Homo sapiens: one gene and its partners. The protein of the gene in region 4 interacts with the protein of the main gene of each other region in a biochemical or structural test. Each region holds a gene or a part of one and is shown on either strand. Other genes may lie near its edges. The genes, in order: UBE2K, RABGAP1, PIM1 and SENP1.

Region 1 (7,896 bases), on a different chromosome or scaffold from region 4:
TTACTGCATTCTGTAGAGAAGAAAAGGGGACAGGAAATTAAATCTCAAGGAAACATTTAAACAATACTGAATCATTCACTCTTTATACTGGGAATTAACACCTTGTTTCTTTTCTGTAAGTTGATTTACATTTGCAGTGCATGGAAAGCTTCTAAAATCAATGACAGTAATTAGTAAAAATAAAAAAATCACTGACTTTGAAAACAGAAAATATGTTTACCAAAACTAGATTTTCTCTTATTTTCCTTTTTTTTTTTTTTTTTTTTTTTTTTGAGACAGGGTCTTGCTCTATCACCAAGGCTGGAGTGCAGTGGCATGACTATCGCTCACTGCAGCCTCGACCTCCTGGGCCCAAGGGATTCTCTCACCTCAGCCTTCAGAGTAGCTGGAATTACAGGCACTCACTACCATGTCCAGCTAATTTTTGTAGAGATGGGTTTCGCCATGTTGCCCAGGCTGCGAATTTCTCTTATTTTCTAAACCACTTTTGTCAGCCAAGAATTTGCAATAATTTAAAATCAATCAATATATCAAAATCAACATGCCCTTATGTACTTACCCTATCAAAGCCCATAGCACATAGGTTTTCTATTTTTTTGGTGTATTCTGGACTAGAAACTGGTGCTCCAGCATACACATGTGCCCAAAGTCGAGCTGTCTGTTTGAACATTTCGGGATTTTGTTTGTACTATATGGGGGGAAAAATTGATTGACATGACATTACAGTTATAATATTTGATATATTTCAGCTCTTAATCGCCTACAATCCTACTTTTCCAAATAAAACAAATCTACATTTAAAATGTGATTCACTTTGCATTATAGACAACCTATGTCACTCGAGAAAAGACCACTTAACCTGAAGCTTCGACTCACAATTTGTGTTGACAATAATAAAGACAAGTAACATTAATCTACTTTAATCTCCAAATTCAACAAATATAACTAGCAAGACTAAAATTAGGTTAAGTGAGGTATTAAGAGATGTTCCAAACACTGGAAAGCAGCAAACATTATACAACTGAACACAGATTACTAGCTTATAAAAATATGTGGACATTAGAATAATTTTTTACGATGTAACCAGCTTTTGTATTACCCACAGCCCAGGCTAGAATACAACTAGATTCTTCTGTTTTCTTACAGCTGCATTAGTGTACAGTGATTTATGGAAACCCCACATGCAAAGTCCTAACTTATTACATAACTTGAGATGATTATAAACTCACAATAGAGTAATTTTATTAAAAGACTTCCCATATGCATTGGAAAGAGGTAAATTTATCAAATACTTTGGAACCACCATTACTTAGTAAAGCAAAGTATAAATTACTAACTATTCAATTCACTTTAATATTTCTTTTAAAAGTAATTTATATATTTAAATCTATTACATATTAAAACGATAAATCTAGTTTCTACCACTTATTCATCACAAGGAAATAAGTCAAATTATTGAACTATTTTAGGAGCTAAAAGAAACCCTTGAGTCCAACCTCAACGTGTAAGGCTTAGAGCTCAATAGGAAAGCAAAGCTGGAACACAAGCCATGCTTATAACAACAAATATGAACAAATAGCACATATATAAAACATGGAAAACCCTAATTGGAAGTACTCTGAGACAAATAACAGAATATATTGACAAGGATATATACATATATACATAAACAGATCTTCAAGGGAAAAGAAGAAAGATAATATATAAATTAAAATCTTATAGGTTAAAGAAGTTTGCCAAGAGGAAGTTTCCTCAGGCAGAGGAAATATGGTAGATTGGATACAATATGTAAAAATGAATGCAATGCTTGAAAAAGCATGAGTTTGAAGAAAACAAGAATTTAGGAAATAAAGCAGAGTTCAGATCATGGAAAAACTCTGCAAACTAAAGAATCTGGACTCAAGTAGATGACAGTAGAGCTACGAACAAGTTTTTGTTAGTGAAGTAAGATTTGCACTTTATAAAGCTACCTGATAGCAATGTAGAAGATGGAGAAAGGAAGAAAGAGGTTGAGAAAAGGAGATCTATCAGAGCAGTTGAAAAGAAACAATTTTTTAAAAGTGACCTATGGCAATCAGAGTAATTATGTAAATATAGTGACAGAATGATACAGGGAATGGTTATCAACAGGAGCAAAGGAGACACAGAGAAAAACTCCAAAGGCTGTGACTTGGGTGGTTAACCATATGAATGTTCCTTGGATACCTGAATGTAACACTGCCAAAACTGAATGCAGTATCATAAATCCTACAAACCTATCATTCTATGATACCATCACCTACCAATTTAGTTAAACACCAGGCTCTCGTGCTTAGGAGAGAGGGCAAGCCTAAACATTTTATCAATGTACAGGTACTAACATCAGTACAGATATGATCATCCAAGTGTGAGTGTGTACAGAAAGTAAAGGTAACAAGGTCAGAACTGAGGAACTACATTTAAGAAAGACGAGTAAGAAGGGAAATAATTGTGGGAACTAACAAAGAACAGCTATGAAGTGAGGAAGAAAAGAGGGTAATATCTTAGAAGTCAAGAGAAGAAAAACTTTCTAAGTTTAAAAAAAAAAATGTCCATTATATTCCAATGGCTTAGAGTAGGTGTTGGCAAATTTGTTTTTTGAGACAGGGTCCCGTTCTGTCACCCAGGCTGGAGTGCAATGGTGTGATCTCAGCTCACTGCAACCTCTGCCACCCAGGTTCAAGCGATTCTCCCACTTCAGCCTCTCAGGTAGCTGGGACTACAGGTGTGTGCCACCACGCCAGGCTAGTTTTGTGTTTTTAGTACAGACAGGATTTCACCACGTTGGTCAGGCTGGTCTGGAACTCCTGACCTCAAGTGATCCACCACCCACCTCAGCCTCCCAGAGTGCTGGGATTACATGCATGAGCCAACACACCTGGCCAGCAAACTGTTTCTTAACAGGTCAGATACTAATAACTTAGGTCCAGTCTCCGTTGTAACTAATAAACTCAGCCACTGTAGCTAGAAAGCGAAATGAAAAATATTTATTCTGTTCAACAAATTACAAGGTCATTGGAAACTGTGCCATGTCACATAAGTCCCATGATAGGAGGTGATTAAAATTATTAGCAGGGAGGGATCATCACTGAAAGGAAGGATAAAAAGATGGACACATACACGAGCATTAATCATAGAATCTAGATGGTAGGAATATGGGTGTTCACTATGTAATTCTTTTGACTTTATGTGTTTGAAAATACTCATGTTAGGAAAACAGCATCTATATCCAATTAAACTAGGATGTTAAAAGTCTATTTTCACTATTACACCTGACAAAATAATCCTACCACAAGAAAGAAAACCATTTCAAAATTTAGTTTCAATAGAGTATGCTCATGTGTTAATGTGCAAACCACTGAAGTGGCTAGAGACTCATACATAATATAAGAAAGTCTTTCAAAAGCGGCCATCTTACCTGATTTGCTACTACAGCATCCTGTGGATCATCTGGCTCTGCAGCTGCCAATAGTGCTTGCAATGACAATAATACCGTGCGGAGAGTCATTGCAGCTGCCCTAAAATGCAAAACATGAAAATATCCCAATTAAGAGGGCTCTGCAGGCAAAAGCAAAGTATTTTCTTAATAAAAATTAAAAAATTGTAGAGCTAAAAGTTACTTAGATCTTTATCTTAATTATATAGTTAAGTCATAGACATTTATAATTATGTATCTGCCTATCATATATTTTCTTCCTTACTTTACAATTTGCCTATTTCTTTTTTCTTTTTTTCCCCTGAGACGGAGTCTGGCTCTGTCGCCCAGGCTGGAGTGCAGTGGTATAGTCTCGGTTCACTGCAAGCTCCGCCTCCCGGGTTCACGCCATTCTCCTGCCTCAGCCTTCAGAGTAGCTGAGACTACAGGGGCCCGCCTTAACGCCCAGCTAATTTTTTGTATTTTTTTTTTTAGTAGAGACGGGGTTTCACAGTGTTAGCCAGGATGGTCTCGATCTCCTGACCTCGTAATCCGCCCGCCTTGGCCTCCCAATGTGCTGGGATTACAGGCATGAAAAACCACCTGCGCCCGGCCTTTTTTCTTTTTTTTAATGACAGTGTCTTGCTCTGCCGCTCAGGCTGGAGTGGGCAGTGGCACTATCTTGTCTCACTGCAACCTCCGCCTCCTGGGCTCAAGCGATTCTCCTGCCTCAGCCTCACGAGTAGCTGGGACTACAGGCACACACCACCACACCCAGCATTTTTTTTGTTTTTCCTTTTTTCGTAAAGACGGGGTTTTGCCATGTTGCCTAGGCTGGTATCGAACTTCTGAGCTCAGGTGATCCATCCACCTTGGCCTCCCAAAGGTTAGGGTTACAGGTGTGAGCTACTACACTCGGCCAGCTTTTCTATTTCTTAAGACAACTCGAATTCTGAACTGTCCTTGTTTTTCTTGTTGCCAAGATCCTTCTTGTTAGTTTAGTTTAGTTTAGTTTTGAGGCGGAGTCTCACTCTGTCGCCCAGGCTGGAGTGCAGTGGCGCGATCTCGGCTCCCTGCAAGCTCCGCCTCCCGGGTTCACGCTATTCTCCTGCCTCAGCCTCCCGAGTAGCTGGGACAACAGGCGCCCGCCACCACGCCCGGCTAATTTTTTGTATTTTTAGTAGAGACGGGGTTTCACTGTGTTAGCCAGGATGGTCTCGATCTCCTGACCTCGTGATCCGCCCGCCTCGGCCTCCCAAAGTGCTGGGATTACAGGCGTGAGCCACCGCGCCCAGCCACCTTCTTGTTAGTTTTATCCACTCACTTATTTTTCTATCCATTTCTCTAAACAAAGTTAAAGTGATAAATCATTAGTACTAATAGCATGTGAGGCTTTCTTTCAATGGCACTCTAAAAACAAGATACTATGAAACAAATATATTTTCTTTTTTCTTTTCTTTTATTTTCTTGAGATGGAGTCTCACTCTGCCGCCGAGGCTGGAGTGCAGTGGCGCGATCTCGGCTCACCGGAACCTCCACCTCCCTGGTTCAAGCAATTCTCCTGCCTCAGCCTCACAAGTAGCTGGGACTACAGGCACATGCCACCATGCCCGGCTAATTTTTTGTAGTTTTAGTAGAACAGGGTTTCACCGTGAGACACAGGATGGTCTTGATCTCCTGACCTTGTGATCCGCCCGCCTTGGCCTCCCAAAATGCTGGGATTACAGGCTTGAGCCACCGCGCCCGGCCATATTTTCAAGAAAATATGAAATCATTCCATAACATTCTGAAACAGGACAAGTTTTTTGGATTAAACTACATCACTTAATTTATGATTCTAAATGTATTTATAAGGAAAATATCTTTATAAAGCTAATATTTGTCTAAAAAATAGTATCTACCTGTCTAGCAATAATTCTTGGCATTTCTGTTAAAAAAAGTTGTCTCACTGGCTGGGCGCGGTGGCTCACACCTGTAATCCCAACACTTTGGGAGGCCAGGGCGGGCAATCATCTGAGGTCAGGAGTTCAAGACCAGCCTGGCCAACATGGTGAAACCTCATCTCTACAAAAAATGCAAAAATTAGCTGGGCGTGGTGGCATGTGCCTGTAATCCCAGCTGCTCAGGTGGCTGAGGAAGGAGAATCGCTTGAGCTCGGGAGGCGGAGGTTGCCGTGAGCCAAAATCATGCCATTGCACTCTAGCCTGGGCGACAGAGCGAGACTCCATCTCAAAAAAAAAAAAAAGTTGCTTTATCAATTAATAGAGGTATGTATAAATATGTGGACATATTAAAAATGTTACATGTAAAGAGAATGCCCATTTTTACCATGTAAATTAGATCATTCTTCTTTTTTTCTTTTTTTGAGATAGGGTCTCACGCTGCCTAGGCTAAAGTGCAGTGGTACAATCAAGGCTCACTGTAGCCTTGACCTCTTTGGCTCAGGTGATTCTCATACCTCAGCCTCCTGAGTAGCTGGGACTACAGGTGCACACCACCACGCCCAGCTAATTAAAAACAATTTTTTTTTTTTTTTTTTGGTAGAGACAGGGTTTCACCATGTTACCCAGGCTGGTCTTGAACTCCTGAGCTCAAGCAGTCCTCCCACCTCAGCCCCCGAAAGTGATGGGATTATAGGTGTGAGCCACGACAACTAGCCAATTACTCTAAACCAGCCTTTTTCAACTGGGTTCCTGATTTGAACCACAAAATAGAAAAAATTAGTGACTGTTTTCTCAATTTTCCCAAGTTTGGTACATAAATAGTACTTCCCTAGATGCCTACGATAAAAGTTAATTTAGGCTGGGTGCAGTGGCTGACGCCTGTAATCCCAGCATTTAGGAAGGCCGAGGCAGGCAGATCACTTGAGGCCAGGAGTTTGAGACCAGCCTGGGCAACATGGCGAAACACTGTCTGCCAAAAATACAAAAATTAGCCAGATGTGGTGGCACATGCTTGTAATCCCAGTTACTTGAGGGGCTGAGGCAGGAATCGCTCGAACCTGGGAGGCGAAGGTTATAGTGAGTCCAGATGGCGCCACCGCACTCCAGCCTGAGGGAGACAGCCAGACTGTCTCCTACACCTCCACCCCTAGCCAAAAAGTTAAGTTATTGCCAACAACCAACAATGGATGTCTTAAAGCAATGATCTCAGTGTTGTTCATCCAACCAGCAGCATCAGCATCCCTTGGGAAGTTTTCTCTATCCCAGAGCTACTGAATCAGAAACTCCAGGGTTTGAGTCCTAGCCGACGCCGTCGCCGCGCGCGCGAGGCCTGGAACACACCGCACGAGCCGCTCCCGCCCCTACCCCTTTACGCCCACGTGGAGCCGGCCCCGCCAGCGCGAGCGCGCCCTATACACCCTCCCGCCCTGCGCCTACATGCTGCCCTGGCTCTGCCCGTGTGTGGGGGGCGCTTCCGGCCCCGCGGGGGTGGGGAAAATAGGGGATTAAAAAAAAACAGCGCGCGGAACCGGGCCAGGGTTGCCCACCCCCGCCACAATGGCCTCTGGGGTGAAGTCCTGCGCTTCCAGCTGCCCGGCCACTAGGCCGCTACGCTACGGAACATGAACAAGCTCCGGGCAGAGGAGTGGTTCTGCGACGTGACCATTGTGGCCGACAGCCTCAAGTTTCGAGGCCACAAGGTCATCTTAGCCGCCTGCTCACCGTTCCTGCGGGACCAGTTCCTGCTTAACCCCAGCTCGGAGCTGCAGGTCTCCCTGATGCACAGTGCACGCATCGTGGCCGACCTGCTTCTCTCCTGCTACACGGGCACCCTGGAATTCGCTGTTAGGGACATCGTCAACTATCTTACAGCCACCTCCTACCTGCAGATGGAGCACGTGGTGGAGAAATGCCAGAATGCCCTCAGCCAGTTCACTGAGCCCAAAATAGGCCTCAAAGAGGATGGGGTCCGTGAGGCTAGCCTTGTGAGCAGCGTCAGCGCCAACAAGTCCCTCCTCCCTCCAGCCAGGACCCCAAAGCCAGCCCCGAAGCCCCCACCCCCCACCTCCTCTATCCCCTCCACTCCTGCGGCCAGTGAAGCTGGAGTTCCCACTGGATGAGGACTTGGAGCTGAAAGCCGAGGAAGAGGATGAGGATGAGGACGTATCTGACATCTGCATCGTCAAGGTGGAGTCGGCCCTGGACATCGCACACCGGCTCAAGCCCCCTGGAGGCCTGGGAGGGGGCCTGGGCATTGGAGGCTCCGTGGGTGGCCACCTTGGGGAGCTGGCCCAGAGCAGCGTGCCCCCCAGCACTGTGGCCCCACCGCAGGGTGTGGTGAAGGCCTGCTATAGCCTGTCGGAGAACGCAGAAGGGGAGAGCCTGCTGTTGACTCCGGGAGGCCGGGCCAGCGTGGGGGCCACCTCGGGCCTGGTGGAAGCAGCAGCGGCGGCCATGGTTGCCCGGGGGGCGGGGGGCAGCCAGGGACCCCTGCCTGGGAGCTTCTCAGGTGGAAACCCC
Region 2 (7,896 bases), on a different chromosome or scaffold from region 4:
CTATTAAAAAAAAAAAAAATGCAGTGTGGGCCAGGCACACTGGCTCACACCTGTAATCCCAGTACTTTGGGAGTCCAAGGTAGGAGGATAGTCTGAGCCTAGGGGTTAGAGACCAGCCTGGGCAACGTAGTTGAGATCCCATCTCTATAAAAAATTTTTAAAAATTAGGCAGGCATGGTGGTGCAAGCCTGTGGTCCAGGCTACTCAGGAGGCTGATGGAGCAGGATCCCTTGAGCCCAGGAGGTTGACGCTGCAGTGAGCCATGATTGTACCACTGCACTCCAGCCTGAGCAACAGAGCAAGACCCTGTCTCTAAAAATAAAATAAAATGCAATGTGGTAATAATATAATAATAACCATGCATGTATAGCAGGTGCCATAGAGGCAGAGAAGAGAGGAATTCATTCTGGGGGAATTGAAATAAGTTTGGTGCCTGAAGGAAGAGTGCATGTTTGAGGCAGAGAGGGAAAGGACATCCCAAGGAGAGGGAACATCATGAACAACAACAAGGAAATACGAAGTTTTTTTTAGCGCAGAAGTGGTTTTTCCTTAATCTTCCCTACTCCTTCGCCACAGGAAATGCAGTGGTGATAGCTGTATTCATTGTAAAGAAAAAGTTAAGATTGGAGAGAAGTATTGGCACCACTTACTGTCTGTCAAAATGCTGTCCCAGTGTGGGTAGCATCCTCCAGGGTTCTGTATTCAAGGTCCTATAGTGCCACCATGGCCCACAAGTGGCTACATTCATTTACATTTCCTCTGTGTGTTTTATTTTCCAGGCTTATTCTGTGTATGATGAAGAGATTGGTTATTGCCAGGGCCAGTCATTTCTTGCTGCTGTGCTCCTTCTCCATGTGAGTAATTAGGTCTCTGTTATGACTTAACACATGGCCTCCCTCAGCTTATACTAACCTTAGGCTTGAGCATGGTTTTATATTGGGTTTGGACAGACTCTTAAGGCATGAATTTTAACACCTATAGCTGGAAACTTTTTCCTTAAATTAACTTAATGTCATTGTGGAGGAGATATATGATGAGAATAAACGGCAATGTTGAAAACTGGTACAGGGGTAGACTTCCTTTTTATTAATAGGATGATTGGAGAGACTTTAATGTTGGTTGAACTCTTGGGGACGTTTTATCTTCTCTAAAGTAGCCGCTGTCATTAATACTTGTTTTGAGATTTAGGTATTGGGGTAGGAGGAAGGCGGAAAAGTTGGTTTTCTTTTAGTACCATTTTATTCATTCATTGGCTTAGCAAACACCTTTGCCCTCCACCTTTTTTATTTTCTTTCAAATCCACAGAAAACTCTAAACAGTGTTAAGGTGAACAGTCTTTATCTAGTTTACCAATTAATATTTTCCACACTGCTTTTTCTGTTTGTCTCCCTCTGCATCTCTTTTTTTCTCTTTTCTGCATAAACACACATTTTCTTTTTTACTTAAATTGTTTTTTGAAATTATTCTTGAAAGTAAATAACAAACATCAAGACTTCTAAATACTTGATCATATATATGCCTTCTGGGAGCACAGAATTCTGTATCATAATCATAATACCATGATCACATCCAAGAAATTCCACATTGATTCAGTAATGTCTGATACACAATACACATTCAATTTTCTCCCAATTGTCTACTCCATAGAATCTAGCTTTTTTTCTAATCAAGATCTAATGAAGATTCAAATATTGAATTGTCATTTCTCTTTATTCTTTTAATCTAAATTACTCCTTTGCCTTTTTTTGTGTTTCATGCCATTGATAGTTTTGAAAAATTCAGACAAATTGTCATATAAAATGTCCCACAGTCTTGATTTGTCTCATTTTCTCATGATTCAGTTTAAAATGCTTGGCAAGAATACCACACAGGTGATGTCAGCAAAGAGTTTTGAGTACCTGTTATGATCTGTACTGTGCTGAAGATCAGAGGTAAATAAGAGACATGGTCTCAATCCTCCTGGATACAGAGCTTGTGAATCCAACTAGCTTTAAGCACATAATCACACAAGTATATCATTTATTACTTTCAGTGGTGCTATTAAGGTATAATAAAAAGTTTGGTGTAAGATTGTAACAAGGGAGTCTTACTTAGATTAAAGGCTTCTCAGGGGAAGTGACCTGTAAGGAGCAGCCTGGAAAATGATAAGGGATATCATTTTCTTTTGCTCTTTTCTGTGTTAACTTTTCAAAATGTTGTTATGAAAATAATAGATCTATTTGAAAAGGGAGTAGAGAATAGAGTGTTAATGGGAAAGTGAATGGTACAGTATACAGAAGTCCTAAACTGGGGAAACACTTGGTGTATGGGAGGAACTGAAAGGAGGACAGTGTGACTGGAGTATCCTGAGTGACTGGGAGTTGAGGAGAGAGCTAGGGAGAGCTTTGAAGCCCAGATAAGGAGTCTGAATCTTGCTTTTCTAAGCAACAGGTATTCAAGGGTATTAAGCCATTTTGTGTAGATTGCAATACAAGTTTGAGTATCCCTTATTTGAAATGCTTGGGACCGGAAGTGTTGTGGATTTTGGATTTTGGATTTTGGAATATTTGCATTATACCGGTTGAGCATCCCAAATCCAAAAATCCAAAGTGTTCCAATGAGCATTTCCTTTTAGCATCATGTCAGTGTTTAAAAAGTTTCAGATTTTGGAGCATTTTGTATTTTCAGATATGGGTTGCTCAACCTGTACAAGTAAAACAAAAACCACTTTGGTTTTTCTTAACTGAACCCAGCTTGTTGCTATTGGTAGTCATGTAAAAATATGATAAAGCTATGACATGAATAAAGAGGTTGACTTTTTATTTTGTTTTGTTGTTTTAATGAGACTTTATATCTCAAAGTCCCACAAGCCTGGGTGATTTATCTTCGTTCTCACCTTCAGTTCAAGGACATTTATCCCCTTGAAAATGGGTTTTCCAATCAGACCCTCCATGTCTTGTTTTGAACTCTTGCTGCTTGCCAGAGTGTTATAAGTGCTTGTTTAGAGTGAGGGGAGATGGGCTACTTAGCATCAGAATCACCACTGTGGGTTAGGCCACATCTCCTTGCATGTGGCAAAGTGAAGTTGCCTTCCATGACAAAGACTTCAAAGATCTGGGCTTTTGCCCCAGATACTCTTAACTTACCAGTAATGATCTGCTATGCTTTTCTCACTTATTACTTAATCTGATTTGCTCTTTAGTTCTGCTTTCTTCTCAGTGATTTCTGTGCTCAGCCCGCCTCCATCATCTTGTTCCATAGAAGCCTGCCCACCTTCTTGACTTTTTTGAAGGCTTGCTACATTCACACCAATCCTTAAATAACATTTCCAGTGCTTCTTTTTTCTCTTTTGAAAATATCTTGCCAAGTTCTCAGGGAAATAATTATCCATAAAACTATGGAAAATGTAGGTATTATTATAAATGTAAATAGAAGTGAAGGAGGCTTTTGTAGTACTTCAAGCATTACTGCAAGCCTTAGAATATGTAAGGTTCTTCTAAAACAAGCTATATTTTTAACAGTGAGGAAGAAAAACAATTTTGCTAGAATGAAATAGCAGCTAAGGGAGGAAAAATGGTTAAACAGAGGTCCCAGGATTTGGGAAAGATGACACCTACACTGTATATCAGCCTATTTCTGCTCAGCTCAAATTCTGTCCTTTCTACAAAGTCTGTTTCTGACTGCCTTAGGCAGATACAGGCCTTCCTGTTCTTGTATTATCACTGATGTCTAATTCCTATTACAGTTATTTTAATACTGGCTGTGTGAGAGACTCCTTGAGGACAGGAACCATACTGACAAAGAGTAGTCATTGTTAACTATTCCTTGTTTGAGTGAATAAATGTTTTAAACACAACCTTAGGCCTGAGTTTCTGCATAGCACTAAATTTTCTGGTAAGGCAATAATATAAAGCTGGATTTAATATCCTGAGAAAACTTCTGTATGTTTTGTGATTCCCCACCGCCATCCTCCCTACCCAACAACTTGCCTATCTGTTACAGATGCCTGAAGAACAGGCATTCAGTGTTCTGGTCAAGATCATGTTTGACTATGGGCTCAGGGAACTTTTCAAGCAAAACTTCGAAGATTTGCATTGCAAATTTTACCAGTTGGAGCGCCTCATGCAGGTAAAAAGAGAAACCAGCTTGTGTTTGACAAAAAGAGTACAGGACTAAGGAGCACCAAATTGAGGAAATGGTGCCAGGGAGCATTGGTAATTGCCTTAGCGATCCGTGGCTAAGGATGGGTTTCATTTTTATCCTTTATCACTATGTGATTATGATGCAAAGATTAACAAAGTGTTAAACTTTCACACCTCATGGATGTGAGCTGATAAACTCCCAAAAGATCAGATGACTTTGTTAGGGGTCTTTTCCACAGCTAACTCAGTCAAGAAGTACTCCCCAAGGCTCTGAAGCTGACTGGTTAGGAATCTCATAACAAAAGTGAAACAAACTTTCCCAAATGTTTTTTACTTTGGAGAGAAAAACAGGCTTTCCAAATACTTGTCACCATTTTGGGGATTCCTCTTTCTTTAGAACAAGTTTGTGGTCTGGAAAAAAGAGTTGAGTGCCAGCTTAATACCAGATGATAAGTGTTCTAAGCACTTTGGAGATTTTTAGAAAAACACAAGTATTTTACTTTTTTGGCCTATTCCTGGTAGATTTATGAGCCTCCTTAGTGGGAATTGGACAGATGCATATGTGCCCAGAACTAATTGGTTTGCTATTTCAGGAATACATTCCTGACCTGTACAACCACTTCCTGGATATAAGCCTTGAAGCACACATGTATGCCTCCCAGTGGTTTCTTACTCTTTTCACTGCAAAATTCCCTCTCTACATGGTCTTCCATATCATCGACCTGCTTTTATGTGAGGTATGTATCAGAGGCCACAGCACTTTGGCTTTTGTTTGCAGTGTACTTGAGGAGAACAGATTCTGTTTTGAGTGTCAGCTCTGTCAAAACAGAATTGGTCTCTTTAATTATTTTATTTTATTGCTAGGAAATCTAGGTTTAAGTGACTTCCTTGGACTAAAGCTAATGATCGTATTTGTTAAAGGTGTACTCTGAAAAGACGTACTGAATTAGACATTTGTATTAGTTCATATTAGTTTTGGCTGTATTGAATGAAGAAACCCAAAGTAACAGTGATTTTAAAAAATAGCTTTTTGCTCTCTTGTGAAAAAAAGTCAATGTTGGCAGTAGCGTGCCTTCCCCTCACTCTGGCTGTTAGCCGTATGGAGGAGTAGCACACCAGCCATTATATCATATTCAAGCCAGGAGGATTAGAGGATGGGAGAGGGTGCCTCCTCTGTTTTCAAAAGAGACTTCCTGGAAGTTCCATCCAGTATTTCCACTTTATGGTCAGAACTTAGTTACATGACCACACCTAGCTGCAAGGGAGACTTTTTAAAAAATAAGCTGAGCAGGAATTTGCTAAAAATTAGAGATTTATTACTAAAGAGAAAATAAGATATTAGAGTAAATAACAGTCTTTGCCATGACGTAATTTTGGATTTTGTGTGGTGTGTTTAAGAAAAACATAATTATAAAAATAATATATGTTTATAGAAAATATAAGTAAAAATAATTTAAAATACTACAAATCCCACTGTCTATAGGTTACCTCCTTTAACAGTTTGGTTAAAAGCAGTATCCTTTCAGCCTTTTTTATGTGTTCATATATGTGTATGTATAATTACTATACAGAATAGTATGGTTTCCATATGGATGGAACACTATATATATTATGGTTCTCCTATGTGTATATTTAAAAATATGATTGTTATTTATACTCTTTGGTATCCTCTTTTTAAATTTCATATACTTGAACATACACATCTGTACTATCCTTTTTAATTATGCTATATTCAAAACATACAAAAATTCATAAAGAATTTGTATCTACCACTCAGCTTGAAATATTCTAAGAAACAGAAGAAATAAATATTACCAAATATGCCGTTTTTCTTAGTTGCTGCCAAGTATCCCATTATTTGGATGTGCTATACTTTATGTAACCAATTTCTAATCACAAACCTTTAAATTGTTTCTAGCTTTTTAGTAGTATAAACAACCATCTGTTAAGTAGCTACTAAAGGCCAGGTGGCATGCTAAGTAATTTACATAAACTTTTCAGCTAATTATCTCAGAAAACCCATAGGAGAGTATTAGTTATGGAAACTGAGGCCCAGCAGCTTAAGCAGTTTAACTTGATCAACAGATGTTAGTGCTTCCTCTCCTTTGTTCTTAGCCCCAGGATTTGCAGAATGGAGGGAGCCTTGAGCAGATTCAGTTCTGGAATATAGGGCTTATCGACAGAGTGGTTGCTGTGCATGGATTGGGACAGCACAAGATAAAGGAAAAGTTCCCCAGGAGTTATTTCCTGAGAGATCACAACTTTATGACTGATCTTTTGGTTTGGAAGCATGGAATGCTTTGGAAAAGCATTTCTTATTATTGAATATGAGAACAGGGCAAGAAAAGCTCTTCTCTCAGAAAAAGGGGAAGCTAGGTCTTTAAGCAGCTTTTCAATGGCCCTTTAGTTTTTATTTTTCAAGGTAGTTCTGAGATAATGCATTTCCTTCCTTAAGTTTTCACAATTTCTTTAAAAATGTGGGGTATAAGGACAAATAGCATAATAGTCGAGATATAAAAACTGACAGTGTTCTTTTTGTCTGTTCTCTTTCAGGGAATAAGTGTTATTTTTAATGTCGCCCTTGGATTATTAAAGGTACTCATTTATTTATTAGCTGAGTTATCTGTCATTCCCTGCTCTGCACTTGCAATACATTGGTTGTAGTCTCATTCTGAGCAGTCACTGTGCACTAGCATTACCCATGACAGTGGATGTATGCAGGTGGCTCTGACAAAAGCGAAGAAATATCTTCTGGGGATTATAAAAGTGCTGGAAATCTAGCATTACCCCTAACAGTGGATGTATGCAGGTGGCTCTGACAAAAGCTAAGAAGTATCTTCTGGGGATTGTAAAAGTGCTGAAAAGTGCTGAGAATATAAAAAACTTCTTGTGCATCCTTATAGCAACACATTTTTTCTATATGTGTTTGTATTTTCTTCAAGACTTCGAAAGATGACCTGCTGTTGACAGACTTTGAAGGTGCCTTGAAGTTCTTTAGGGTTCAGCTTCCTAAGAGATACCGCTCAGAAGAAAATGCAAAAAAACTAATGGAATTAGCCTGCAACATGAAGGTAAAATAATTTTGCATTAGTTAAGATTCTGTTTTTCACTTAGTGTCTCACTATTCCTGATCATTTATAATACATAATTATTTATGTATTATATTTATAACATTTATAATACATATTAGTGTTAACATTTATAATATATAAATAATATTAATGATGTTTTCTTCTGTATTATATAACTCTTAACCTTTTTTTCCCCAAAATACTTTCCTATATATTATAATCCTACGAATGAAATCTCGTTGTCCCCCCAACCGCCAAACTATAGAAGAGTATTAATATCCCTGTTTTGAGACAAATCAAAACAAAAAGAGGTTGTAGTTCCCTAGTTGTACACCTGGTTAGTGGCAGAATTCAGGTTTCAGGTTTCATGATTTCTTCTACTGTGCTGGTTTTTTGTTTTTGTTTTTTTTTTTTTCTTTTTTTTGAGACAAGGCTAGAGTGCAGTGGCACAATCATAGCTCATTGCAGCCTGGACCTCCCAGGCTCAAGCGGTCCTCTCACCTCAGCCTCCTGAGTAGCTGGGACTACAGGTATGTGCCACTACACCCAGCTAATTTTTAACTTTTTTTTGTAGATTTGGGTTCTCACTATGTTGCCAAGGCTAGTCTCAAACTCCTAGGCTCAAGTGATCCTCCCACATTGGCCTCCTAAAGTGCTGGAATTACAGGAGTGAGCCACCACGCCTGGCCTTAACTTTCAACATT
Region 3 (8,163 bases), on a different chromosome or scaffold from region 4:
GTGGCTCACCCCTGTAATTCCAGCTAGGTGGGAGGCTCAGGCAGCAGGATCGCTTGGGCGCAGGTCTAGGCTGCAGTGCGCCGTGATCCATTGTGCCACTGCACTCCGGACCCTCGGTGACCAGAGTGAGACTTTGTCTCAAAAATAAATAAATAAAAATTAAAACAAAAAAAGAAATATTCAGTTTTTGTTTTGTAAAGACAGGGTTTCCCTATGTTGCCCAGGCTGCTCTCCTGAGCTCAAGCAATCCGCCTGCCTCGGCCTCCCAAAGTGCTGGGATTACAGGCGTGAGCCACCATGCCTGGTCTTTTTAAATTTAGAATGTTTCCTGTCTGGCCAGGCGCGGTGGCTCATGCCTGTAATCCCAGCACTTTGGGAGGCTGAGGCCGCCGGATCACTTGAGGTCAGGAGTTTGAGACCAGCCTGGCCAACCTGATGAAACCCGTCTCTACTAAAAATACAAAAATTAGTCGGGTGTTGTGGCGGACGCCTGTAATCCCAGCTACTTGGGAGGCTGAGGCAGGAGAATCGCTTGAACCCGGGAAGGGGAGGCTGCAGTGACCCGAGATCATGCCACTGCACTCCAGCCTGGGCGAGAGTGGGACTCTGTCTCAAAAACAAATAAACTAAATAAAATAAATAAAAAACTGAGTAAATTTTTTTTAGGAGATAAATGAGTGATGCAGATTCAATACGTCTCTACCTGATTAATTATAAATAGCGTATAGAGTCTTAGTTATACAATCCTAGTTATATAAATGCATTGACTAGACTTACAGACACTTTAAAAAATTGTGTACCGATATCACTTTCAAACTTTCTTCTAAACTTGTTTTTTAAAAAAATTTCGTGACTACAGAACTTGCTGAAGTCATTGTTTTTTTGTTTTTTTTTTTTGCATAAGCATATAGTCCCTGGATGAAGTCATTCCTTTGACAATGACTTGATTAAACCCATATCAGGCAGAATATGAAAACCACCTAAGGATTAATTTGGATATTGTTCAAATTAATATTAATAAATGCTCCTCTTCCCAGAGAACTGTTAGCATAATTGTGGCCTTTTATCCTTCCAAAAGCACTTGTCATTTAATTATTAGGGTGATTTTTCTGATTCTTTGTTAGATTCTTTGAGATAGCACAAATAGTGCTAATTTTATTAAGACTATATTTCGATAAATCAAAACATCAAGTTCCCTACTCTCGAGGAGTAACTTTTGACCCACAACACATCTGAATGTTTACTAATTATCTTTTAAAGCAGTTTTAAGTAAATCAAAGCTGTTTGCCAAGCAAGGTCCATGTTTTGTAACTTCCAGCTGTGAAGCCCCCACTATACAAAGTAGATATATTAAATGTTAATCACTTTAGCTCTAATTAAATATTTAGTCCTTCAAAGACCTAGAAAAAGTGAAAAAGGTTGAAGTTGATACATATTTTTTTTTCTAAAAGGCCTAAAAGATCTACTAGAAACAACTATTTTAAATCACATCTCTCCCCAAATGGTTAAAAATCGAACTATTAATCCAGTAGTTTACCTTTGGTACCTTCTAGGTGTAAGACCGTTTGGGCTGGGCGCGGTGGCTCACGCCTGTAATCCCAGCACTCTGGGAGGCCAAGGCAGGTGGATCACAAGGTCAGGAGATCGGGACCACCATGGCTAACACGGTGAAACCCCGTCTCTACTAAAAATATAAAAAATTAGCCAGGCGTGGTGGCAGGCGCCTGTAGTCCCAGCTACTCGGGAGGCTGAGGCAGGAGAATGGCGTGAACCTGGGAGGCAGAGCTTGCAGTGAGCCAAGATTGCGCCACTGTACTCCAGCCTGGGAGACAGAGCGAGACTCCGTCTCAAAAAAAAAAAAAAAAAAAAAAAGGCCGTTTTAAAAAACATCATCATCATAACCACGATCAACATTATTGCCATCATCATTGCTAATATTTATTAGAAGTTTACTCTGTACTGGGTTATATGCTTTACAAACAAGAGTTTTATTTGCTCCTTACAACAACCCTATGAGGTAGATGCTGTTATTATCTCCATTCTGTCTAAAGCTTAATAAGGTTAAGTAACTTGACCAATGCCTAACTAGTAGCTGCCAGATCCCGGAATTGAAACCAGGCTAACTTAGTTTAAAGCCCTTGCTCCCAACTTTTATGTTCCCGAAGCCCACTTAATTCATTTAAATTTGGTATAAATTGACTTTAATTATGGCCTTTTTGTTAGAATCCATTATAGTCTTCTCTTTTATCAACAAATGTTGGATAAAGTATGCATTCAGGGAGGCTGGGCATGGTGGCTCACACCTGTAATCCAAGGAGGCTGGGCATGGTGGTTCACACCTGTAATCCCAGCACTTTGGGAGGCCGAGGCAGGCGGATCATAAGGTCAGGAGTTCGAGACCAGCCTGGCCAACATGGTGAAACTCCGTCTCTACTAAAAATACAAAAATTAGCTGGGCATGGTGGCGGGCGCTTGTAATCCCAGCTACTTGGGAGGCTGAGGCAGGAGAACCAATTGTTTGAACCCGGGAGATGGAGGTTGCAGTGAGCCGAGATAGTGCCATTGCACTCTAGCCTGGGTAACAGGGCGAGATTCCGTCTCAAAAAAAAAAAAAAAAAGGGCATTCAAGGAATAGGAAGACAAAGTATAATGGAAAAGTAAATGAACAAAAAGGATTTAAAAAAACAAATCCCAACTGTCAGATTAGTGGACAGTGAACCAATGCTCTGAGTTTGTTCATCAATCTGTGGTAGAACTACAATTGTTTCCTAAAGAGTGGAAAGGCTTTGAATAAAAGTGGAGAGGTAGAGAGGGCTCTCCCAGGACAGGTTGATTGCTTCCGCAAAGGCAAAGGGTCTGTAAAGTGCTAGGCGAGTGGGAACAAGTGGGAATAGTTCTGTTTGACTACATTTGAGGGTTTGAGAAAGGAAAGGGAGGGTAGAAGGGATGGAAGTGGGAATCACATATGTTTAATGATGTCTTGTTCGGTGCCAAGGACAGTTTTAGACCCTGATAAGCGGAAAGCTTTGAATACTCAGGAGGTGAATTTGGGTCATTTCATCTCCTCTCTTAGCTGCTGTATGACCCTGTGCCATCCTATTTATGTTTCATTTTCCTATCTGCAAAAAGGGAGTAATTCTTGTTCCCTTGGGTTTTCTCCTAGTCATAAAAAATGAATGAGTTCGGCCACAGTACACAAACAAAAGGAAAATATGTAATATTTTGTAGGATAAATTCATAAAAGTTGTGGAGGATCTGGGCACTTTTATAAAGCAAGCACTGTAGAAAACTTTCAAAGGAAACATTTAAATTCACTAATGACAGCTATAGGGATCCTGATTTTTCCTTTAAATGGCAGGCACTTCAAAAAATTAAAATAGAATGTAGTTAGCTTTCAATTACTTAGGCCACTGACAATTCAATTTATGGATTATATAGTATTTTAATTTACTCATTTCACACGTCGTTATCAACTCTACATGAAGTTTAAAAGGACAAAGGATGCAAGTGGAATTGGTCAGTGTTCCGGGTTATTTCCAAGGGAGGCAGAGGGTGGGGGGTTTCCTTTGAGACAAGACTTGGGGTTGGCCAATAATTGCTGGTATTGCCTGCCTGGTAATAACAGGCTGATGAAAAGGTGACTACAACGTGAAAACTGGTTAAATCAAGCGCACCCTCCCACCCTCGTTTTAGATGAGGAATTTTCCGCCCTCACAGAAGGGGCTGAGGCAGCATCTGGCATCACAACACTAACATTTGCTTCGTGATTTCCTCTTTACCCGGCCCTTTGACACACATCCCTTCCCAGAAATCAGGATTCGCTGGTGCTTTTGCATTTCTAAAATGGGAATCCCGTGGCTGAGCTTTTAGCCGGCCGGAACGACTGAGGGCTGCATCCCTTTCCCGCAGGAGCGGGGCTCCCGCCTCCAGTTCTGTTCCAGGCCTGACTCCTCCACTCCCTCCGTGACTCATGTCCTGCGGATCCTTCGCCCCCGACGCGCCCCCCAACACACAAACCCCCAGAATCCGCCCCCAGCCTACAGCGCGACGTCAGCCCGCCCCAGCCGACTTGGAGGTCTCGGGTCTGAGTCACACAGAAAGACCACCCTCGTCGGCATCCCCACACACAGTCCGACACCCGGCGCGCCGGCCTCCCCGCCTGACACACTAACGCCCGTCGTCTCCGCGCAACTTGTTATGCTCCGGCTCGAGCCCTTGACCCAAAACCCTCAGCGAAACGGAGAGCCGCAGAGCCGGCCTCGGGCGGCCTTTGATGGCTTTGTTATTGTTTGGGTTTGAATCGATACGCCCCTCCCCATCCTTCCTCCCTCGCGGCCCTACACCCAGCTCCCGCCTCCCCTCACGCCCCGCGCCCCTCCCCCTCCATTTTGGCGCCTTTTCCTTCCCGCCACGTCGTGGCGGCGTAGAGACCATTCTGACCGCGAGAGCTGGGCGGGGCGGGGGCGGGGCGCGCCGAGTTATGCAGATCAATCGGCCTCTGGTTGGCTGGAGTAGCGCTGGCAGGGGCGGGGCCGGGGCGCGGCCACAGAGCGCGCGGGGCGGGGGCCGAGGGGAGTCGCCCAGTCCCGCCGCTTCCCCACCCCCTCTCCTCCCTCGGCCGGCCCGGCAGCCCTGCTCCCCGCCTTGGCCTCCCGGAGAGGCCCCGCCCCGTCCCCGCCCGCCGCGCCCTCCCCGCGCGCCCTCCCCGCCGGCGCGCTCCTCCCCTTTACTCCTGGCTGCGGGGCGAGCCGGGCGTCTGCTGCAGCGGCCGCGGTGGCTGAGGAGGCCCGAGAGGAGTCGGTGGCAGCGGCGGCGGCGGGACCGGCAGCAGCAGCAGCAGCAGCAGCAGCAGCAACCACTAGCCTCCTGCCCCGCGGCGCTGCCGCACGAGCCCCACGAGCCGCTCACCCCGCCGTTCTCAGCGCTGCCCGACCCCGCTGGCGCGCCCTCCCGCCGCCAGTCCCGGCAGCGCCCTCAGTTGTCCTCCGACTCGCCCTCGGCCTTCCGCGCCAGCCGCAGCCACAGCCGCAACGCCACCCGCAGCCACAGCCACAGCCACAGCCCCAGGCATAGCCTTCGGCACAGCCCCGGCTCCGGCTCCTGCGGCAGCTCCTCTGGGCACCGTCCCTGCGCCGACATCCTGGAGGTTGGGATGCTCTTGTCCAAAATCAACTCGCTTGCCCACCTGCGCGCCGCGCCCTGCAACGACCTGCACGCCACCAAGCTGGCGCCCGGTGAGAGCACCCCCCGCCTCCGGCCCGGGGATGCGGGGCGGCGGCGGGATCTCCTGGGTGGGGAGCTGGCGGCTCGCGGGCCGGCACTGAGTCCCCGTGCTTCCCCCTTTCCTAGGCAAGGAGAAGGAGCCCCTGGAGTCGCAGTACCAGGTGGGCCCGCTACTGGGCAGCGGCGGCTTCGGCTCGGTCTACTCAGGCATCCGCGTCTCCGACAACTTGCCGGTGAGTGGGCGCCCCGCGGTGGGGAGGGCGCGCCGGGCGGGGGGCGCACGGGCGTGCTTTAGCCCGGACGAGGGAACCTGACGGAGACCCTGGGCTTCCAGGTGGCCATCAAACACGTGGAGAAGGACCGGATTTCCGACTGGGGAGAGCTGGTGAGTGCCCTGCAGGAGCGACCCCCAGGATGAGTGGGTGGGGTGAGGGGCGCCCCCGACTCCCGCCCTAACGCGGCCCCCTCGCCCCTGCAGCCTAATGGCACTCGAGTGCCCATGGAAGTGGTCCTGCTGAAGAAGGTGAGCTCGGGTTTCTCCGGCGTCATTAGGCTCCTGGACTGGTTCGAGAGGCCCGACAGTTTCGTCCTGATCCTGGAGAGGCCCGAGCCGGTGCAAGATCTCTTCGACTTCATCACGGAAAGGGGAGCCCTGCAAGAGGAGCTGGCCCGCAGCTTCTTCTGGCAGGTGCTGGAGGCCGTGCGGCACTGCCACAACTGCGGGGTGCTCCACCGCGACATCAAGGACGAAAACATCCTTATCGACCTCAATCGCGGCGAGCTCAAGCTCATCGACTTCGGGTCGGGGGCGCTGCTCAAGGACACCGTCTACACGGACTTCGATGGTGAGCCAGGCCCGGGAGGGAGCTGCCCAGGTGACTCGGCCCGGCCCGGCCCAGTCCGGAGGCCTCGGCCAGTCTCCCGCGCCAGCCTTTTGTAAAGGTCATTGGGCCGCCTGGCTCGATGCTAGCCGGGGTGGGACGCAGGAGAGCCTCCCAGCGTAGTAAAGCCGGGGATTTTCAGCCAGCTGAACCTGTAATGTTTCTGGCATGATTTTATTCTTCAAGTGGAATTCAGTTAGTTCCAGGCTTTCCCGATGAATAAGAGGTTGTGGGCAACCGGCGGTAGCCCAGATTTTTCTAAAGTCTGACCCAGTTTCCCCGCCAGTAAAAGGATGGGGGCGGGGGAAGAGGTGGAAATTGATGCCGGTTTTGTAATTTTTGTTTTATTTTATAAGGGAGTTAGTTTTCTGTATGGTAGTTTTAGAGCTGCAGTTCTTAACTCCTTTCTGATCTAGGGAAGGTTAAGGAATAGGAACTATATTATTACTGGTGGCTTTTTTTTTTCTTTAGTGTTAAGGGGAGAGAGAGTCAGGAATGAATGTTGTGAAATAAGATCTGTCGCTGGTTTGAAAATTAGTTGGGTGTCTCCGCAGAGAGGATGAAAACCTATCCTAGGGAGGGGCTTGGAGCGGGTTCTTTCAGAAAAGAAGGAATGGAGAGCCTGAGATCAAAGCTGCGGAGGGTGGGTCATCATCTGAGCGGCTTAACCTAACAAACGACAGCCTTTCAAAACTTGTGACTCGGGCTTGTGGTTTATGTTTATTTGCCCTTGGAGGACGCTGGGTTGGGCTGCATTTTTTGTATTTAACAGTTAATGGCTGGCCGGGTCCTCCCATGTTTTTTCTTTCAAGTCTTTGCTGCCCCCTGGTGAGCACCAGCGGCATGGCCCCTCCTTTTTCTTTTACTACCCAAAGTTTGTAAACAGGAATCACGTGGTCTGAAACCAACCCTGCAGCTCTGTCTACCTTTCCAGTCTAGGGAGGAAAGGGTGTGGGTGTCTGCTCCTGCTTGCATCGGGTGGGGAGGAAGGCCTCCCAAAGGGCACCCTGACTTAGGATGTTGTGCAAGCATCCTTGCTTGGATCCTGTCGGCCATGAGAATCTCACCCGGGCTCCTGGGCAGTGGTGAATGCAATTTAAGGATAGTCTATGAGATACCTTTCTTGGTTGTGCAGACATGCATCCCTTCATCCTTCGCAGGCGGTCCTGCCTCACAGGGCCTCAAGTTTTGGGTCTGCGGCCAGCTGTGTTTGTTTCTTGGAGCAGTTCATAAAGAATTTCAGTTTATGGTTTGGGCTAGCAGAGAGGTGGGTAATGCTTTGGGTTGGAGAGATGCCGTAAGGTGCGCCTCCACTCTCCTTAGCCCAGAGGGAAAAATGGAGTTCACCTAGCTCCTGAGAGAAGGGATTTTTTTTTTTTTTAAAAGAAAGAGTTATATATACCACCCAGCTTCTTTGTGCTTGTTTTTGCTAAAAGTGTGTTTTCTCTTCTATTCCCTTGGCTCACAGGGACCCGAGTGTATAGCCCTCCAGAGTGGATCCGCTACCATCGCTACCATGGCAGGTCGGCGGCAGTCTGGTCCCTGGGGATCCTGCTGTATGATATGGTGTGTGGAGATATTCCTTTCGAGCATGACGAAGAGATCATCAGGGGCCAGGTTTTCTTCAGGCAGAGGGTCTCTTCAGGTAACTGATGGAAACCCCTGGCCATGGGGTTATTGGTCTTAATGGGGCTATTAGTCTTCATGGGACAGTCTTTGAAATTCTGGAGAGCTTCACTCTCCAGTAGATTCTGTCACCCTTGGCTTAGAATTGTAGGTGAGTGATTTACACTTGAGCTGGCCTCATAAATCACATGGTTTGCACTTGAGCTTTCCTTGGGAGGTCAGAGGAAGGCATGTGTGAGCATATTAAGAAGAAAAGACAATCTGGCTTCTCCAAAAACTTTTTTAAAGGTACCAACAGAAACCTGATAATTCCTGGCTGTTTTGCCAGGGAGTAAAAAGTTAAAAGCTCTTTTAGCATCTTCTTTAAGGCAGCAGCTCCAAATATTTTGGTACCAGTGACCTCACTGTGGGTGGTGTTCGTGTTTGTAAGTTG
Region 4 (5,579 bases):
CCACGTTTCCTTTTCCACCTTCAAAGCTGGGAATGGTAGTGTGTGTTCTTAGTAGACAGATGTTAGGAGTCAGTACAGGTAAAACAAGGCCCTAGACTTATAATAAAGGATGCTGGGATGAGCCTTGTCCCTTCCCATGGAATTCCAAGCTGTAGATGCATTGCTCCTGGGCGGGAAAATAAGGTACCCTTCCCAGTAGTTCAGCACGTGGCCTGTTTAACAATAGGGCCTAATAGCCTAACACCTCTTTTTCTGACTCTCTTGGGTATGTGAACTCCCAGGGTGAAAGCATCATATTCCACCTCATGCTAGTCCATCCAGGTGGACCAAACAAAAAGAAACCCCAGGTGTCAGTCCTCTCTCTTACTCCAGCAAGACATATTTAAAAGCTGGAGGGATGGCACAGGACCAGAAACTGAAACATTAAAAACATTGGGGCTCTCAAGTGAACTCTTCCCCCTTTACCCACTAGAGCCACTTAAGGGCCATGTAAAACCAGGCAGTAATGGACAGGCTATGAGATGGGGTTGGTGGAAGTGCTTTTCCAGGTTATCTCTGTTTCTACCTCAGGATCTTGGTGCTAACATTGCTGGGGGCAGTGGATAGAAGATGCTAGCATGATTACAGTGGCTAAAGAATACAGAAATTAATTCCACATAGAAGTATGAAGCATCTCATACAGAGGAGTCAATTGACACAAATTCCCCAGACTGGATGAGGGAAAAGTACTCTTATATTCAACCCTAAATAGGACTCCTGGGAGCAATGGTGGGTCCCAGGTGACAAATGGGATGTAACTAGCCTCTGTGCCTCAGACCATGTGTTTCTCAAATGGGTAAGAAAGGTCTGTCTGATATTCTCTGTTCAGGGTCTCGGAGTGATTCTTGGGATTATGGTTTCTGTTGAGGTCTCTATAGCTGGCATCTAGTGCTTATCATCCCTCAAATATTCCTTTTTTAGGGAAGGCAGGTGAATATGAGCAGTGGACACAGGAGAAAGGGGAACACAGGAGAAAAAAGTCTTATTTAGTTTAAAGTAAATTACATAAGATATTAATAACATGCCTTTGGGCCATAAAATGCAGAAATACCTTTTTTTTTTTCCTGGTCATCAAAGCCTACCCCTAAACAAAGGGGAAAGTTTCCAGATACTACTCCTGCTCTTGTTGGCTAGCTCAGGAAAGAATGGTCCACTGTGTAAGTCTGTATTTGGACCAGGTCCAGGGTGGTAAGATGGTCTCAGGGTCACTAACTTCTACCTTGTGCAAAACTGCATTAGTCAGAAAGGGGGCCCAAATTCAGACAGGCTCAACAATTCCTTATATATTTTTCAAAGTGCTTTTGTTGCATGTTTCATTTTCTGCTATACATGGCAATAAATATTTGTTGCTTTGGTCTGTACAAAGTCTGTGAGGAAGGTAAGACAGATGTTACCTAAATGGACAAACAATAAATACAGAGAACAATCTTGTTCTGAGTCCCCCAGACAATAGTGAAAGAACCTGAAAAAGGTCTTTTGATTCATAGTCCAAATCGACACCATATTGCCACCTTTCAAGTTGTTGCTTACATACAGTAAATACCAAGAACCAGACAATATTCCAGGAGTCCTGCAATGAGACTGCATGCCACAGCTTTCTAAAAGAGAATGTGAAGGTCCCCAGCAACTCATATATAGAAAGCTATTTATTTCCTATAGAAAACTCAAAAACAAAGAAAAAGAAAGAAAAATAAAGAGAGATAGAAAGAGAAAGGGAAAGAAAGAGAGAGAAAAAACAAACACACAAAAGGTGGTCTTTCCCCAAAAGGCAGGCAGTTGAAGGGAGGACATGTAGTTGCTGGAGTGGAAACAGTAACATTCAGTTAACAATGGAATATTTAAAAAAAATAGTTTTCTTTTCAAATTGTAACTTGTGGTAAAACATAGAAAAATGTACTAAACGAGCTTGTATAAAACAGTAAAATTTTCAAATAAGCCCAGGGAAAAAGCACAATGCTGGAAAGAATGCGGTACAACGGGAGAGGAGAAAAGATTTCATACAAAACTACCTATTACAATACAGAAAAAAGTATAAAATGTTCCTACTTTGGAACTTAAGTACAAAATGACACTGGCATTTGATCACTTCACTATCTAAGCCTGAGGAGCTCTCAGAGGGTGGGGAGAGATGCTAGAAAGAACAAAAGGAATAGCAGTTTTTAAATCTCAAGTTGATCAGTCCAAACTCCACCCGTTTTTTTTTTTAGCTGAAAATATCACCTCCCTCTGTAACCTCTACCCATATGGCAAAGTTCATCCAGGCCTCAAAAATATTCCATTAGGTAGTCCACAAACACCCTACTCATAGGGGCTGGGATCTCTGTGTGCTGGAATTTGGAAAATGGAAATAAATCTACAGGCTAAATGGTGAACACATTCAGTCTTTAAAAAAAAAAGCATATCCCTGTGAAATTTTATACATACATATATATATATATATATGTATGTGTATATATATATGTATATATATATGAAATTCTCTGTGGTTAGAAACATATTTAAACTAGCCACAGACCAAACTAGATCTGCATTCATCCAGCGCTGGAATTTTATGCTAAATACTAAGGTCCTTTTTCTTCTTGGTCAGAAGTAGGCAACAGTAAAAGTGGTGCTTTGTTGCGCCACTGAAACCGCTCCCTGGGTGGGTCTTCCCCGTATCATGTGTTGGTAGCACATGCAAACCCCTGCTTTCACGGAAAGGACTGCTTGGAACTTTGGGACCTGTCCAGGGCTCATGTGCTGTGCCTCCGGATAGGATGAAGCTACAGATGATAAAACAGCTACGTATAAAAGCAGATGGATTTTGTATAGGGACATATAAATAGGAAAGGTCCTGGAGGAAGGGACTTATGCCTGGGCCCCAAAGTCCAGTTTACAGTCACATTCCTGACCATACATCGTGAAAATTGTGTGTGTGTGTGTGTTTGTGTGTGTGGGTGTGTGTGTATGTCCATGTATATGCTGGTGGTTTTTATCCCTACCTTTTGCCCATGCCCTTTCCTACTTCTTAGTAAGGCCTAACAACAAGAATTTATATGAAACCAAGATTCTTTCCAAGCTTTTCTCAGTCCCATAATTAGGGACTGAGTGAGGCTGGAGCCCTTTGAAAACAAGATGGCAGAACTGAAGAAGTGAAAAGCAGTCTCTCTCTTCAGCTTAGGGATGTCCCTCACCCCTTTCACAGCACCAAAGTTTCTTTGCAAAAATAGTATCTGAGATACAAAAGGAAAGGCAGATGTGCTTGTGAATGCATCTCGCCAGGGCCTGGTCCAGGATCAAGGGTGTTACAACAGCAGAGGGCTGGGAGCAGCTGTTTCCAAGGTCTCTGGCTGTAGACAACAAAGAGCTGGTCCCCCACATGGTCAAGGTCTGCTAAGTGAGACAGTCTTCACAAGAGTTTTCGGTGGAGGATCTCCCAGACCATCCGCTTCCGGAAGTATGGCATGTGTTGCTGTAGGGACACAGAGACACCCTTAATTTTCAATGCTTTTGTCTAGACCTGATACGCCTTTCCCCATACTTCTTTCTTTTGCAAGGTTTTCAACAAACAGTCTCAGTTGTATTTCTGGTCTTTTAAATTATTCATTCTTGGTTACATGTAGTTTTTTTCTTTTCATTGCTTTTTCTATTGTTATTTTTCACCATTATAGCCTTAGAAGTTACACTGGGTATTTCCAGGAATCCCCAGGCTATGCCCACGTCTCTAAGAATTTTGAGAATGGTGTCTAATAAGTCTTCTATGTTGAACTTTTAAGAGGATATGAGCCTAGGCCTAAAAATAAAAAATTCACCTTTTAGAAGAATTAAGGGAACTTGAAGAGTCAGCTCAGGCTGGTCTAGACAAAGGGCTATGGTAGAAAAATCTGGTAAAGTCACTGATTCAAACAGAAGTAAAAGTGGAGAACACATCAGAATAAACCATAATCTCTAATCTCAATCCACTTTGGTCTGAGAGACCACATGGACAGAAATGACCAATCACTCTCTAAGAGAAGACTGACCAGATTCATCAAGTGAGGGGTCAGGGGAGGGGGCAGCATAACAAATTACACTAGGAGATTGAGGTATGGCCTATTCCCAAACCTGACTACTAACGAAATGCAAGGGAACTAAAGAAACCTGCTCTGGTCCCAGTTCTCTCTAGAAGTTACAGTAGGTAGAGGAGACAGGCAGAGAAGGTTCTGCTCTTGAAACCTTTACTACAATAACTGAGGTGTGGTAACCCAGGACGTGGCTTATCACTAATTTTCTTTCTTTTGTGATGTGATTCAGGTAGTAACCATCAGTGTTATGAATCATGGGCTGAAGCATGCTAAAGGTTAGGGTAGAGGCCCCTAAAGAGAACAACTGGAGAGAAAAACATCTACAGGGCAGCTTGGAGACAAAGTAATCCTAGAGCTCCCTATGGAAGGCTCAGCTCACCTGTGTGAAGTTGATTGGTCTGTCTTTGGTAATACAGTCAGCATATTTGCAGGCAAACATCCCACAGTCACTTCCATTCATCTGCTGAGGAATCTCCTGGAAGACCAACAACAAAAAAAATGACATCTTTCCAAGCTTCTTTCCTTCTTAGATTAAAAATAAGAACCAAAAGATATAAATTGTACAGGTTTCTCTAAATTACAAACAGATGACTCTGGCCCCCCAGTCAGGACAACAGAGGCTCAAAGAAACAAAATACAACATTCCAGTCAGGTCTGTGTACTCTGTATTAATCAAACAGGAGAATATCTCCGACTCCCATGGCACCTAAGGGTATAAAAACTGCTCCCTCCCCCAGAGGCCAAATAATCAGCAAACATTCCCCTTAGGAGTGAAAAGCTTAGTAAAATATCTGGGCATTTAGAAAACCTAGTTCTACATAAGAAACACACTATCACTTTTCCTACGGATAGCTTAATTTATCCTCCCCCAGAAACCAACCAACCAAGCTGAAGTCAGGCTAGACACGAACACAGGTGGTCCCTGGGAATTAAGCAGTAAAATTCTTTCCTCCCCAAATACCCTACTTTTAGGACTTTTATTTCATCAAGATGAAAGGTACCTGGCTTTTCTTGCTGAAAAGCTGCCAGCCATTGGTGTCAAACTCTTTCCTTTTCTTGTCAATGCTTTCTTGCTTTAGGTATTGCCTAAAGGTATCAGGAGAGAATGAGATAAGCAGTGGGGAACATCGATGACAGCTGCCACACTAAGAATGGGGCTGACAATACCTAGGAACAAATTTGTTTCATCTGCTCTTCTGAGGAAAAGAGTATATAATACTGGGCAGGGAATCCCTGGATTGTTAAGTTTTCTCCAGAGCTGAGCATGCCTCTTCTAGCTTGTCTCTTCTAATGTCCACTCTGTCAACTCAAAAGGAACATGACCTCTGCCTCTAACAGTTAAGCTCCTTCTACCTACCATTCCTTCTGAGGAACAATTCTTTTTATTCTTTTCCTTGGTTTATATGGTCCTTTAGAACTCAATCTAATGGAAGAAAAGTGTTTTTCTGGTACTATTGAGGTATTTATTTACTACTGTTAGGCTTGGCTCTCCTATCT

What was found.
Region 1: of the proteins of SENP1 (region 4) and UBE2K, one has a biochemical effect on the other in vitro, tested with the Homo sapiens proteins (one study listed by BioGRID).
Region 2: of the proteins of SENP1 (region 4) and RABGAP1, one has a biochemical effect on the other in vitro, tested with the Homo sapiens proteins (one study listed by BioGRID).
Region 3: of the proteins of SENP1 (region 4) and PIM1, one has a biochemical effect on the other in vitro, tested with the Homo sapiens proteins (one study listed by BioGRID).

Annotation. Positions count from the first base shown.
Region 1 is NC_000004.12:39,770,474-39,778,369, reverse strand, and holds part of UBE2K (ubiquitin-conjugating enzyme E2 K), read right to left. Parts: exon of another isoform or gene 6,671-7,896; intron 3,537-6,670; coding exon 3,437-3,536; intron 689-3,436; coding exon 560-688; intron 11-559; coding exon 1-10. UniProt on the Homo sapiens protein: Accepts ubiquitin from the E1 complex and catalyzes its covalent attachment to other proteins. In vitro, in the presence or in the absence of BRCA1-BARD1 E3 ubiquitin-protein ligase complex, catalyzes the synthesis of 'Lys-48'-linked polyubiquitin chains.
Region 2 is NC_000009.12:123,069,571-123,077,466, forward strand, and holds part of RABGAP1 (rab GTPase-activating protein 1), read left to right. Parts: intron 1-779; coding exon 780-854; intron 855-1,841; coding exon of another isoform or gene 1,842-1,907; exon of another isoform or gene 1,908-1,931; intron 1,932-3,981; coding exon 3,982-4,107; intron 4,108-4,714; coding exon 4,715-4,858; intron 4,859-6,674; coding exon 6,675-6,716; intron 6,717-7,063; coding exon 7,064-7,192; coding exon of another isoform or gene 7,193-7,201; intron 7,202-7,896. UniProt on the Homo sapiens protein: May act as a GTPase-activating protein of RAB6A. May play a role in microtubule nucleation by centrosome. May participate in a RAB6A-mediated pathway involved in the metaphase-anaphase transition.
Region 3 is NC_000006.12:37,165,424-37,173,586, forward strand, and holds the start of PIM1 (serine/threonine-protein kinase pim-1), read left to right. Parts: upstream 1-4,728; 5' UTR 4,729-4,879; coding exon of another isoform or gene 4,880-5,152; coding exon 5,153-5,234; intron 5,235-5,349; coding exon 5,350-5,456; intron 5,457-5,557; coding exon 5,558-5,608; intron 5,609-5,701; coding exon 5,702-6,068; intron 6,069-7,572; coding exon 7,573-7,749; intron 7,750-8,163. UniProt on the Homo sapiens protein: Proto-oncogene with serine/threonine kinase activity involved in cell survival and cell proliferation and thus providing a selective advantage in tumorigenesis.
Region 4 is NC_000012.12:48,041,895-48,047,473, forward strand, and holds the end of SENP1 (sentrin-specific protease 1), read right to left. Parts: intron 5,169-5,579; coding exon 5,084-5,168; intron 4,558-5,083; coding exon 4,462-4,557; intron 3,491-4,461; coding exon 3,428-3,490; 3' UTR 1,003-3,427; downstream 1-1,002. UniProt on the Homo sapiens protein: Protease that catalyzes two essential functions in the SUMO pathway.